2 separate regions of the Homo sapiens genome follow, and region 1 is linked to region 2. Evidence: fine-mapped expression QTL. Tissue or cell type: whole blood. Region 2 holds a variant in brackets; the other region holds the start of a gene. All regions are shown on one strand. Distances are from middle to middle.

The links. PIP is the estimated chance that this variant, and not a neighbour inherited with it, causes the effect.
Region 1: HIF1AN starts here. The variant in region 2 is fine-mapped to the expression of HIF1AN in whole blood (TOPMed, PIP above 0.99).

Annotation. Positions count from the first base shown.
Region 1 is chr10:100,534,480-100,537,121 of GRCh38, reverse strand. It overlaps HIF1AN (hypoxia inducible factor 1 subunit alpha inhibitor), which reads right to left and starts at 1,179. Exons shown (of 8, transcript NM_017902.3): 1 at 987-1,179; 2 at 461-711. The coding sequence starts at 1,163. RefSeq lists enhancers at 1,200-1,259, 1,330-1,419.
Region 2 is chr10:100,576,787-100,579,624 of GRCh38, reverse strand. No RefSeq gene overlaps it. Among named protein-coding and RNA genes, the nearest start is that of HIF1AN, 42 kb to the right of the region's middle. The variant T/C (reference allele first, on the strand shown) is at 1,250.

The DNA.
Region 1 (2,642 bases), 42 kb after region 2:
TCCTGGACTCAAGCAATCCTCCCACCTCGGCCTCCCAAAGTGCTGGGATTACAGGCATGAGCCACCCCCGCCGGCCTTGGCTTCTCACTTTGAACAAGGCTTATGCCTTCAGCCTCATCACTGATTTCACACAGACGATATTACTCCTTCCATTCACCTGCCTGACCCTTCTAGGCAACTAACTCTTTATGAGGAAGAAGATGGGAACCCAGAGATTCATAGCTCAAGTTTAATCATTCCCTCATCCCTCAAGCTACAGAACTAGCTGGCTGTAGCACCAAGAACCACTAAGAACTCAAACCCCTTAAAGGCTGGAAGACCAGACTACTCCTTCAACTGGAATCCAGAGATGGGAGAGGCCAATCTCTAATTGACCCAATTCTGCCACACCTTCAAACAAGTATAGGAAAGAAAAATGAGTGTCCTAAATCCAACAGAAAATTAAGCTTTCGGAATTTACCTCTCTTCCCCTCCTCGCTGCTGTATATCCTGCAGTTTCTCAACGAACTCATGAAATTTCATTTCTTCCCTGTTGGACCTCGGCTTAAAGTTCTGGAAATTGGCCATCTTCTTCTCATCATAGTACAAGAACTTGTGGGTGCTGGCACTGTACACAGAGAAGTCTCCATTGCCAATATTCTCTTGCAGGTATTCAAGGTCCCATTTCAGGGCAGGATACACAAGATTTGTGTCGGTCAGCACCACAGGCTCCTAAATGAAAACAACAGGTGAAAAACACCAAATGAAGTAATGCCAAGGAGCCGGTGGGTTGGCCTCCATGATCCCAACTACTTCTCAACTTCAGAATAATTTCTCCTGTTAATCAGCACGAACCCCTAAGTTCCGTATCTCCTCGCCTTTCTCTCCATCTTCCCATAGGCCCTAGTCTAGAGCCCTGCCAGTCTCCCATCTCTTTCACCATTCACCTCTGACCTCTCAACCGGGTACCTTCCTCCTCTCCCTTTAGACGCGGCCCCGCCCCCCACCTCATTCTCAATAAGCTCCTCTGCCCGGGGGTCGCTCTGACTCAGACGCGGAATGGGCCTAGTCGGGAAGCTATAACTGCGCAACTGGGATTCATCCCAGGCGGGGCCGAGGGCTCCAGCCTCCTCCCGGGGCTCTCCAGAGCCAGAGGCCACAGCCTCCGCCGCTGTCGCCGCCATCTCCGCCGCCAGGGACGGCCCCCACCGGAACCGGAAGCTCCGCCTATTCCGGACCCCAAAAAAAAAAAAACAAAAAAACCACACACCCAACGGAAACCATAGAGATGAGCTGCGAGAGAGAGCGGTCCAGAGACATAAAGAACGCGGAGCCGAGGCCTGAGGGTGCGCCTCCTAATGGTAGTATGCAGCTCTACATCCTAGGCTCCACTGCTGAAGAAATGGGGCTAGACACTAGTCCCACGGAATAGGGACGACCTGGTAGAGCAAAACACAAAAAAAGTTGCCCCATGTGCCCGAGTCTACACAAGAGTCAAAGAAGGAAGCAAGTTCAGTTAGGCATTAAACTTTACACTCATGAATGGGGAGAAAAGCAAACTCTTGACCCACCTAAAGAAGTCAGAAGGAAAAGCAGTGATCACATTGGTAGATGTAGAGCAAAGGCTGACTGAAGGCTTAGGCAAAAGATATACAGCAAGTTGAATTCTTTCAAAATCAAAGACAGTTTTCTTTTGTTTAGCATCATTTGATTTTTCTGCCTATATCACCATGTCTCCTACTTGAATATATGTTTGCCGTGAATCGAATGTTATTAGAGGCCAACCATGGACATCTCACATTTTCAAACAATCTATACTGATTATAAAAGGCCATATTAATACCTCTATTGCTTACTTGGACAGTTCTTATGGCTGGCTGTGAGAGGCCCAATTCTAAGATGTATCCCAAGATTTGTACCCTACGGTGTACACATCCTGTATACATTTCTCCCCTTAAAAGAAAACACGACTGTGAATATGATAGAGCATCACTCCTGTAATTAGGTTAGCTTATATGACAAGGATGTAATTAAAGTCCCTAATCAATTAACTTTAAGGCAGTCAAAAAGAGGTGATTTATCCTGGTGGGCTTCATCTTATCACTCTAGCCCTTTAAATCAGGGCTAGAGGTCAGAGACAGAATCTAAGAGATTTGAAGCCACAGCACAGCTGTCCTGTTCACCTTGAAGGAGCAAACTGCCATATGGCAGGAAATGGCAGGTGGACTCTAGGAGCTGAGAAAGGCTCCTGGGTGACAGCCAACAAGAAAGTGGGCACCTTAATCCTACAAATGCAAGTAACTGAATTCTGGCAACAACCACTGAACTTGGGAAAGGACACACACGGAGCCTCAGATGAGATCGCTAACCCAGCCAACACCTTGATTTCAGCCTGATAAGACCCTGAGCTGAGGACTCAGCCAACCAGTACCTGGACTCATGGAATATGTGAGAAAATAAATTGGTGTTTTGGGCTGCTAAATTTACAGTAATTTGTTATGCAGTAATAGAAATGAATGCACTGGCTTAACTATGTAATTATGCTACATAGTAACCATGCTACACCAAACCGATAATAGGGCTACCTCTGTGGAAGTGTTTGAGGCTGCAGGGGGCAATCAAGGCTTTCATTTTATCTGCAGTGTTTGAATTTTTTTTTTTTT
Region 2 (2,838 bases):
ACCTCATCCAGGCCCAGGGCTCCCTTGACCACACTGGCACTTCTTTTTTCCATTCAGACCTCAGAGGTCAGCTCGGAATATCTGCATCTCCTGCTGGAAGTTCCTCAAGAATCTCAATCTCAACTCATCTACAATGAACTCACCAAATCTCCCTGCCCCAAATCTATTTGTGTATTCCCAGAGGCAGCCACCCAAACCGGAAACCCGGGGGTCATTGTGAATGCCATCTTTTCATCACCCCTTTCATCTAAGCAATAGCTAAGTCTTGTGAGTTTTCCCTCTTGAGAGCTTTTCAACTGGCCTCATGTGCTGCTTCTGCCTTAGCTGTGGCCTTCATTTTCTCTGCAGTACCCAGCAGTAGGCTTCAAACTCTGCCTTCCAGTGGTCTCCTCTAGCCCCAGTCCAGTCTGTTACAGTGAATAACAGTAACGAATCTTCACTAAGGGCATTTTCACATGCCAGCCTGACCTATACAATCTCACTTCATTCTTGCAACAACCCTAAGAGGCAGGCACTATTATTATTCCCATTTCATAGATGAGGCGATCAAGGCACAGAGAGGTTAAGTAAGTTGTTAGCAACACAGCTAGTAAGTAAGTGGCAGTGCCAGGATTATTCCACAATGCAAATCTTAATTATGTCATATATTGTCCTAAAATCCTTTATGGGCTCCCCATCCCCTTAATACAACGACTCAAATTCTTTAGCCCAGCAGACCTATCCACCTCTCCTGTGCCATCTTTACCTCTGGGTTTTAGTACATACTGGTCTTCCTGCCAGAAACTCCCTTTTCTCTCTGTCTCCCCTCCTGACTTTTTGTGGCCTGTGTAACCCCTACTCATTCTTCTAACCTCAGCCCAGGCATTGTCTCACACTGAAACCTTCTTTGATGCTCTGCTCTCTCCAGTTTGGGTCGGTGCCTGTGGTGAACACTACAACGTGCCACTCAGATCCCCTTCAATGTGGGACTTATCACCAGTTGCTCGGAGTGCTAGCACACAGGCCTCAGCTGTCACCTCCCATAGGAGAATGGCTTCAGCGGAAGAAAGCTCCCTGGCCCAAGGTTACACCAACTTCCTGGGCCCACCCTTATCCCTGACCCATCAGTGTCAGAGTATAAAAGCCGAGCCCTCTGGCCACAACTTGGGAAAAAGCTGAAGGGCCATTCCAGCTCCAGAGTAACCCAGAGGGCAGGTCTTGGCCCAACCTGACTCCCTCCTCTCCCTTCCACAGGTTCTTATCTCCAGAG[T/C]TCCCTGCACATTAATCTCCATCTCAGAATCTGCTTCCTTGTGAAGCCCCCAGTGCTCACGTCCCCCCAGCTAGGCTCTGAGCTCCCTGCAGACTCTGATAAAGGGCTGGGGTGCTACCGGAGAAAGGCGCAGTCCCCCATGAGCCCTAGCCCCAGGGGTAGCTCTTTAAACATGGGGCAATACATGACAAAACTTCTGCCTTCATCCATTCACCTGCTCACAGCTTCTTAATCAGATAATTCATCTCCAGGTGGCCTTGGACTTCCTGGCCCCAGATGAGTCATTAATTTGGTGACTCTTGCTGTCCTCCAGTACTCCCAAGCCACACCCCCAGTAACCCCCAAACTAGACCGTGAGGCCAGAGCCTTGAATCTGTGAGGTTTCAACACCCTGTCACACACTGGGACCACTCTGAAAACAAGTTACTCACACTAACACCACTTTCAGCTGTGATAATACGAACAAGCAAAGCATGAGCACTCTCGGACCTCACATCCTTGAATTCCAAATTCCAAATCCCAAACCCTGATCCTCACATCAAAGAAATAGCACTGTGTCTTAGAAAAGGCATGACTTTAGAAGCAAATGAATCTGAGTTCAATTCCTGGATCTTCCCCTTATTGGCGGAGACCTTGGGTAAGAAACTTTAGATACCTGGCTCGGCATGGTGGCTCACACCTGTAATCCTAGCACTTTGGAAGGCTGAGGCGGGCGGATCACCTGAGGTGAGGAGTTCGGGACCAGCCTGACCAACGTGGTGAAACCCCATCTACTAAAAATACAAAAATTAGCCAGGCATAGTGGCGCACATCTGTTGTCCCAGCTATTTGGGAGGCAGAGGTTGCAGTGAGCCAAGATCGGGCCACTGCATTCCAGCCTGGGCAACAGAGCAAGACTCTGCCTCAAAAACAAAAAAGAAAAGAAAGAAAGAAAGAAACTTTAACTACCTGAAGCCTTCATCTCCTCATCTGTGGAAGAGATGCCATGGCAATCCCTTCTCATGAGGATTTGGTTTGTTTTTCATTAAGATACCATCTGTAAGACCCTCAGCACACAGAGGCCACTTGGTACCTGTTAGCTCTTTTCCTCTAAACTTGAGAATCCTGAGTCCACAGAGCCAAAATAATAATAAAATGGTAACTCTTGCTTGTATAGTACTGACTTTATGCCAGGGATTGTTCTAAGCAGTCTATTCTAACTCGGTCCTCAACAATCCTGCAAGGTACATACTAGTATTAACCTCATTTTGCACTTGAGGAAATGGGACACAGAGAAGTTACGTAGAATGTAGCCTTGAGAGCCACATTCAAGGAGCTGTCTAGGGGTCAAGACCCTGAGGAAGCGTCATTTACGGGTCTCAAAGGTCTGCTAAACATCAGCTGAAAGCCTGTCCAGGGAGCTGAAGAAGGGGAAGAATGGGAGCCTGGAGCAAGAGGAATATTTGTGAATCACAGAACTCAGTAGTTTGCCCGAGGTCACACAGCTAGAAAGAGGTCGAATTAGAACTTGGGCAGTCTGGCTCCAGAGTCTGTTATCTAGGTGTGGGAGGGCCTCATCTGTGAAATGGGATCACCTCCTCTGTAAATGG